2 linked regions of the Homo sapiens genome follow. The protein of the gene in region 1 purifies or fractionates together with the protein of each later gene. This does not show direct contact. Each region holds a gene or a part of one and is shown on either strand. Other genes may lie near its edges. The genes, in order: ITGA7 and SCN10A.

Evidence for each region.
Region 2: the proteins of ITGA7 (region 1) and SCN10A fractionate together in Homo sapiens (co-fractionation; one large-scale study listed by BioGRID). This does not show direct contact.

The regions. Positions count from the first base shown.
Region 1 is NC_000012.12:55,690,865-55,694,681, reverse strand, and holds part of ITGA7 (integrin alpha-7 isoform 2 precursor), read left to right. Parts: coding exon 1-67; intron 68-159; coding exon 160-239; intron 240-351; coding exon 352-426; intron 427-558; coding exon 559-661; intron 662-1,364; coding exon 1,365-1,541; intron 1,542-1,706; coding exon 1,707-1,838; intron 1,839-3,817. UniProt on the Homo sapiens protein: Integrin alpha-7/beta-1 is the primary laminin receptor on skeletal myoblasts and adult myofibers.
Region 2 is NC_000003.12:38,722,217-38,726,033, reverse strand, and holds part of SCN10A (sodium channel protein type 10 subunit alpha), read left to right. Parts: intron 1-719; coding exon 720-860; intron 861-2,480; coding exon 2,481-2,604; intron 2,605-3,621; coding exon 3,622-3,776; intron 3,777-3,817.

The sequences.
Region 1 (3,817 bases):
CCTGTCCAATGAGAATGCCTCCCATGTTGAGTGTGAGCTGGGGAACCCCATGAAGAGAGGTGCCCAGGTTGGCACATCTGCCCTTATCCCTACGTGAGTAGCCTCTCCATAAGCCCGTAGACCACCCCTGACTCTAATCTCTTTCCACCCTTGGCCTAGGTCACCTTCTACCTCATCCTTAGCACCTCCGGGATCAGCATTGAGACCACGGAACTGGAGGTAGAGCTGCTGTTGGCCACGTAAGCCAGGCGGGGCCGGAAGGGTGAGGTGGGGGTAGTCATATTGACCTCATCTGACCCCTTGGGAGGTGCCTGTGCCTGATGCCCATACTTGCCCCTGCCCACTCACCAGGATCAGTGAGCAGGAGCTGCATCCAGTCTCTGCACGAGCCCGTGTCTTCATTGAGCTGCCACTGTCCATTGCAGGGTGAGCCTGGCCCAAGGGGGCACCTCCATTGGAGGGAGGGGGCATTGACATTTCCAAACCTTGGCCAGGGCCCTGCCTTCATTGAGCCAGGCCCCAGACCTTCTCACCCCTGTTCTGACCTCTCCACGCCAGAATGGCCATTCCCCAGCAACTCTTCTTCTCTGGTGTGGTGAGGGGCGAGAGAGCCATGCAGTCTGAGCGGGATGTGGGCAGCAAGGTCAAGTATGAGGTCACGGTAAGTGTCAGGGATGAGGCCCCTCCATGGTCACCCTCCCTCCTTGGCACAGAGGAGAGGCTGAGCTGTGTCCCCAGGGCTGGGGCTCTTCTACCATGTGGCAGCATGCAGTTTGAGGCCTCTGTCCTGCATATGGACCTTGGCTGTGGGAAGGTGTTCCTGCTGGGGCCTCATTTGACCATTTCCTGGTCATTCTGTCTGGCTGTCTCACCTGCTGGTGTGGTAGGCCATGAGAGTCCAGGGAAGCTTCTCTGCTGTGGGCCTCAGCTGGGGGATGGGAACATGGGGCGGGGGGTTAATGTCTCTCCCTAGAACTCTGCCTTTGCTTGGCTGGGGCCTCTCCTCACACCTTCCAGGGACACTTCCAGGGTTTCCCGGATTTGGTGGGTGGAGAGAATGGTGCCTGGTGGGGTCTAGGATCCTGAGTATTTGTTGAAATTGTGTTTCCTGAGGGCCTTCTCTTCAGCCCTTGTTCCTTCCATCTCTGTGGATTTAGGATCCACTTGAAAGCTGAGTTCCTTGGCTGGGCACGGTGGCTCATGCCTGTAATCACAGCACTACAGGAGGCCAAGGTGGCAGGATCACTTGAGCCCAGGAGTTAGAGACAAGCCTGGGCAACATAGATCCTGTCTCTACAAAAAATTAAAAAAAAAAAAAAAAGAAAAACTGAGGTCTCTCCCCTCATACTCTCTTTTTCCCACAGGTTTCCAACCAAGGCCAGTCGCTCAGAACCCTGGGCTCTGCCTTCCTCAACATCATGTGGCCTCATGAGATTGCCAATGGGAAGTGGTTGCTGTACCCAATGCAGGTTGAGCTGGAGGGCGGGCAGGGGCCTGGGCAGAAAGGGCTTTGCTCTCCCAGGCCCAACATCCTCCACCTGGTGAGGCTTAGGTGGGGGTGGGGGTTAGATGTGGGGACAGATGTTATGGGGAGTAAGGGTAGTGAGTGCAGTGATGGGGCAGGAGGAAGGCGGTGGGGAGGAGATTCGATCTTAGCACTGCTGTGATTGGAGGGACACTCACTAAGACCCCCCTTCCGTGTCCAGGATGTGGACAGTAGGGATAGGAGGCGGCGGGAGCTGGAGCCACCTGAGCAGCAGGAGCCTGGTGAGCGGCAGGAGCCCAGCATGTCCTGGTGGCCAGTGTCCTCTGCTGAGAAGAAGAAAAACATCACCCTGGTGAGGGCAGGCCAGACTCGGTGCAGCCAGAGCTCCGGGGTGCTGCGTGTCCAGGAAGGGTACCTGTTGAGACACATGATGGTCTGGGTGCAAGTTGACCAGATGTTCCCATCACAATTCATAGGAGGGGGTGCCCGGGAGGCAGCTACTGACACTGCAGACCCCCTTCCTGCTCAGCCCCTGCAATTGCTCACTCTAGAACAGGTCACTCCACCTGAAGCCAGTTAGTTAGCCAAGCAATTGATTCACATTACGTTTATATAAAGCATTACATTTTATACGTGATGGGATGGGGTTAGCCCATCCTCACACTTTGAGGTCTGTTTGTCGTTCTTTTGAACTCTTATAAGATAAAAAAGTCAATTTGTGTAAGGACACTTGCTTGATTTTTACAGTATTAAAAATGTTAAGTTCTTTTTTGTTGTTGTTGAGACGGAGTCTTGCTCTGTCACCAAGGCTAGAGTGCAGTGGCACGATCTCAGCTCACTGCAACCTCTGCCTCTGGTTCAAGCGATTCTCCTTCCTCAGCCTCCTAAGTAGCTGGGACTACAGGTGCATGCCACCACACCCGGCTGATTTTTGTATTTTTAGTAGAGACGGGGTTTCACCATGTTGGCCAGGCTGGCTGGTCTCGAACTCCTAACCTCGAGCGATCTGTCTGCCTCGGCCTCCCAAAGTGCTGGGATTATAGGCCTGAGCCACGCGCTCAGCAAAAACACTAAATTCTAAAAGTTCTAATAATTAAGACAACCGTATATTATATGTGATTTATTAAGTTTACCCCTTTTGAGCAGTTTTGCTTTCCCCTTTTCTGCTTGTTTTGCAGAGTTGTGTTGTTTAGGTGAAGGTATTGAGCAGATCCGCACATGCTCTGTGCCCCTCCCTGCTAGGATGGGGCTCGCAGTGAGAATGTGGTGGGGACTTAGATTAGGAGGTCTTTGGCTTGATTGTAAGGAGGTGGAGGTAAACCCCAGGTAGAGCCAAGGAGACCCTTTGCAGGGGAATGTCAGCAGCTGCTGCAGTCCCTGCTTTGGGCCCTCAGCTCCCCTGGGAGCATGGCATGAGGCAAACTGAAGAACGTCAGGGGATGTAGGAACCCATGTCGTGGCTGTTGCTCTATTACATGGATAATCCTCCCTTCTCCACGTGACCGATTTCCTCTGAGAGGCCTCCCTTTTAAATGGGAACTTTGAAATAGATTCTTTTTGTTTTCATGTTAAAATGTATTTATTTATTTAAATGACAAAAATTATATTTATCATGTATAATACAATGTTTTGAAATATGTATATACTGTGGAATGGCTATATTGAGCTAATTAACATATGCATCACCTCACATACTTATTTTTGTGGTAAGAACACTTAAAATCTATTCTCTTAGTGATTCTCAGGAATACAATATGTTGTTATTAACTACAGTCCCCATGTTGTGCATTAGATCTCTTAAATAGATATCTCTTCCTTCTGTCTAACTGAAACTTTGTATCTTTTGACCACCATCTCCTCCATCTCCCCAGCCACACCCCGCCTCCACTCCAGCCCTAGGTAACAACTATTCTACTCTCTACTTCTATGAGTTCAACTTTCAGATTCCACATATAAGTGAGATAATGCAGTATTTATCTTTCTGAATCTGGCTTACTTTGCTTAACATAATGTCTAAAGTAGATTCTTTTTTATTTTATTTTATTTTTTTATTTTTTATTTTTTAATTTTATTATTATTATACTTTAAGTTTTAGGGTACATGTGCACAATGTGCAGGTTAGTTACATATGTATACATGTGCCATGCTGGTGTGCTGCACCCATTAACTCGTCATTTAGCATTAGGTATATCTCCTAAAGCTATCCCTCCCCACTGCCCCCACCCCACAACAGTCCCCAGAGTGTGATGTTCCCCTTCCTGTGTCCATGTGTTCTCATTGTTCAATTCCCACCTATGAGTGAGAATATGCGGTGTTTGGTTTTTTGTTCTT
Region 2 (3,817 bases), on another chromosome or scaffold:
CAGGGCATTCACCTCTGCCCAACGTGGGAAGGCAGGGAACCCTGTGAGGCCTCAGGAACATGCAGGGCTGCTGGCCAGGTTACTAAGTGGTCCAGAAAAGCTGTGCTTTGAGTCTGTAGCTCTCCCATAGCCTTCTTCCCTGCAGTCGTCACTTGTGTTCCAGCAGCTGCTGTTATCAGCTGCCATATTTTACATGCCTTTGTCTAGGTAACAGCAGAGAGCATGAACTCTGTGACAGCTGTCTGCCACTCAGAAGCATTTTCAGTTACTTTGGGGCTCTTAGGGAGCTCCAGGTGGCCAAGTTCCCTACAATTTTGACCTCTGGACAAATAACAATGGTCATGGCTAAAATCTATTGAGCCAAGCACTTCGTGCAAAGTGTTTTACAAGCGCTAACATATTTAGTCATCAAAACAGCTGAATGATGCAGATCTAGCCTTTTCAATTTTGAAGCTGGGAAAAATGAAGATTAGAGAGGTTAAACAACTTGCCTAAGGTCACACATCTTATAATTAATGGAGCCCAAGGATAAAACATAGGTCTATCTAGCTATAGTCTTCATGCTCACTTCACACACGTGTATGTATATATGTATGTACATGAGTTGCATATATGAAACTCTTGGCTCTGGCAGCCTGTGATGTGCAAGATCCCTTCAAATTTAGAACTGGTCATCTAAGGGTGGGGCCAGGCACCCAGTTGGGACCCTCTCTCACTAGCAGGAGCAGCTGCAGCAAGTCGAGAGGTGTGGGGACCACCTGACACCCAGGAGCCCAGGCACTGGAACATCTTCTGAGGACCTGGCTCCATCCCTGGGTGAGACGTGGAAAGATGAGTCTGTTCCTCAGGTCCCTGCTGAGGTAGGTATGTCAGCTTCCTGGAGAGGTTGGACAGCCAGCCAGACACTGAGCAGTGGGCTGGTAGAGGCTGGAGGGTGGCGGTGAAGGTGGGGTATTCCAGACTGCACTCAATCACATAACCTCATTTCTTATCCTGGGAATTTTTAAAGTCCCTCCCAACCTCCGGCTAATCCGCACAATTTCAACTTTCACCATATACCATTGCCACAATCTCACTCCAGGGTGGTTCTAGGTATAGAAAGAAAGAGTGAGACTCCACAAGCTGTGGGACCTAAGATCAGTTCCCAAACCTCTCTGAGCCGCCATTTATTCATCTATGAAACTGAATGGTAATGCCTACTTGGTAGGATTATTTTGAAGCTTAAATGAGATGCTGCTTGTCAAATGTTTAGGTCCTGCCTGAGACAAAGTAAGTGCCCAGGAAATGACAGCCAAGAAAAAAGGAAACGAAAGACAACGCACAAAGAAAGTCAAATATCTTTCAGAGCCAGCAAATAAGAGTTGGAGGTGCTCACAGATGAAGAAGTTTTCCCTTGTGATTCTCCCCCACTTTCTTTTGTCCACATCATTTTCTCTAGGCAAAAGTAGCCTGGGGCTAGGGAGAGGCTCTCTATAGGTGAGTAGTGAAGTGACAGCCTCACAGAGACTGAGCTGGAAGATTAGAGGTTTAGGATTGTCTTATACAAGGTAAAAATAAATGTGGTTTCACTTACAAATCTTGAAGGAAACAAGCTATAGGGAAAGAGGCATCTATAAAAGTTTAGCATCTTTAATAACACTGCCTTCAATTCAAGAATTTAATTTGACACCTAGCCACTGAGTGCTGACTTTGTGACAGGCACTGGGCTCAACAGAGATAAGGAAGTCATAATTCATCCCCAAAGTTATCAAGCCCTTCAGCTTGAAGAATGTCAGCTACTGGCTGTGTGCCCTAGGCAAGGCTGACCACAGCAGGGTAAGATAAGAGGGAGGGCTGGGACGGGATTTGGGGGCTGTGGGTGAACAGAAGCCGCTTGGTTCCCACTGGGTGAGGGCTGTCACATTCTGCACGTGGATGTCATGCTTCTTCCCAAATGTTCCAAGGACTCCCCTGGCTAGTTGTCCCTACTCAATGTTTTCAGTACACAACTTCTGGGTGTTGGTTTTTTGTTTTTGTTTTCTTGTCCATGACCCCGGCTAGGCAGGAGGGGCCTGACAGCGACAAATGGGGACCCGCCCCACCATTTGGGTCCATTAGCAAAGCTATCAGGTTTACTAATATGAGAGCAACTTCAACCCCTAATTGAATTCATCTGGAGACATTATAGGGCTGGAGCTGCCAGGAGGGCAGCAGGCCCCTGCAGCATTACTCCATGATTAAATATTCAAGCCCAGTGAATGCTGAGAGTCGTTATGGGTGTAATTACGGTGTCTCGGGCCATTGCCAGCACTCCATCAGGGGCCCCGAAGGTTTACAGTCTCACACAGCTAAGCCTCTGGGGCTCCAGGGAGAAGAGCAGTGTTCCAGGCCTCAGCTGGCGAGGCACCAAACATGGGTGCAGTTGAACCTGCAGTGACCGTGTGCAATTCCCCGGGCCCCGCGGAGAGACGAGTTCACTGCCCTGGGCTTCTCCCCTGCAGGGAGTGGACGACACAAGCTCCTCTGAGGGCAGCACGGTGGACTGCCTAGATCCTGAGGAAATCCTGAGGAAGATCCCTGAGCTGGCAGATGACCTGGAAGAACCAGATGACTGCTTCACAGAAGGTGAAGGGACAGCCACAGGCCCCCTCACACTGATGTTAATTAGGGCCAGAATCCAGTTGAGCGAACACTCACCTGGGATCCACAGAAGACAAACAAGCTGTGCCCACTTGCTGCCTCACTCCCAGGCTTGAGGGCGCCCGCATCAGACACACATGCCCCAGGTGGCAGCAGCCTGGCCGTGGTATCTGCATCTCATGCCCTATCAGACACTACGGAGAGACGTGGGCCTTCCTCTTTACCCTCAAAAACCCCTCCGTGAGTTCTAAACCAGCCCTCTTGAGTTGAAAGGGGGAAACGTAGTCACCACCATAAACACCACTGAAAACTCTTGATTTGGACCATGAAGGACCCAGAGGAAGGCCATGATGTATCTGCTTCCCTCAATCTTTTGTTTAGCTCTCAAAAGCAGAACCTGTGTCTTAGTCATCTTTCCTCTCAGTGTTTAGAACAGTGAGGCACATTACATTCTCAATAAATATTTGTGCAATGAATGAATCAAGAGTCCATTCTATAAAGGGAATTGTGGCCTCAATGCTTTCTAAAAATACAAAGAAAAATTTTTTAAATACTTGAGTTTTTATTAATAGTTTTATTTGACCCTGGGCTGGGCTGAGCTGGGCTGGACCCAATCCCCATCCCAGCCACGTCGTGGCCCTCAGTTCAGCTTGGGCTTGGAGCATATCCCCCTCAGGCACCCCCAGGCTCATACGCCGTAGCTTGTCTGTTTTCCAGGTATAGGTGGGCAGAAGGACAGGGACCACTGGTGTCATCTGTAAGAAGGATATGGCTAGGAAAAACATCAGAGTGGGCAAGACTGATGATGGAGAGGAACACCTGTTGGTCTGGATTGAGGGACTCCCTGGAAGGGACCCCTCTTCACCCATATTCCAGGAAAGAATTTTTTTCCAAGGGCATGACAAGTGGGTTTCCTAGCAGAATGGTTTCTCTGCAGCAGGAGCAGAAATTATCCCCTTTGCCCACTGGCCATCACCCACCATCAGTCACCTCTCCCCACAGGATGCATTCGCCACTGTCCCTGCTGCAAACTGGATACCACCAAGAGTCCATGGGATGTGGGCTGGCAGGTGCGCAAGACTTGCTACCGTATCGTGGAGCACAGCTGGTTTGAGAGCTTCATCATCTTCATGATCCTGCTCAGCAGTGGATCTCTGGTAAGGGGAGGCATAGTCCCTGCCCCCAAATCCTCCAGATA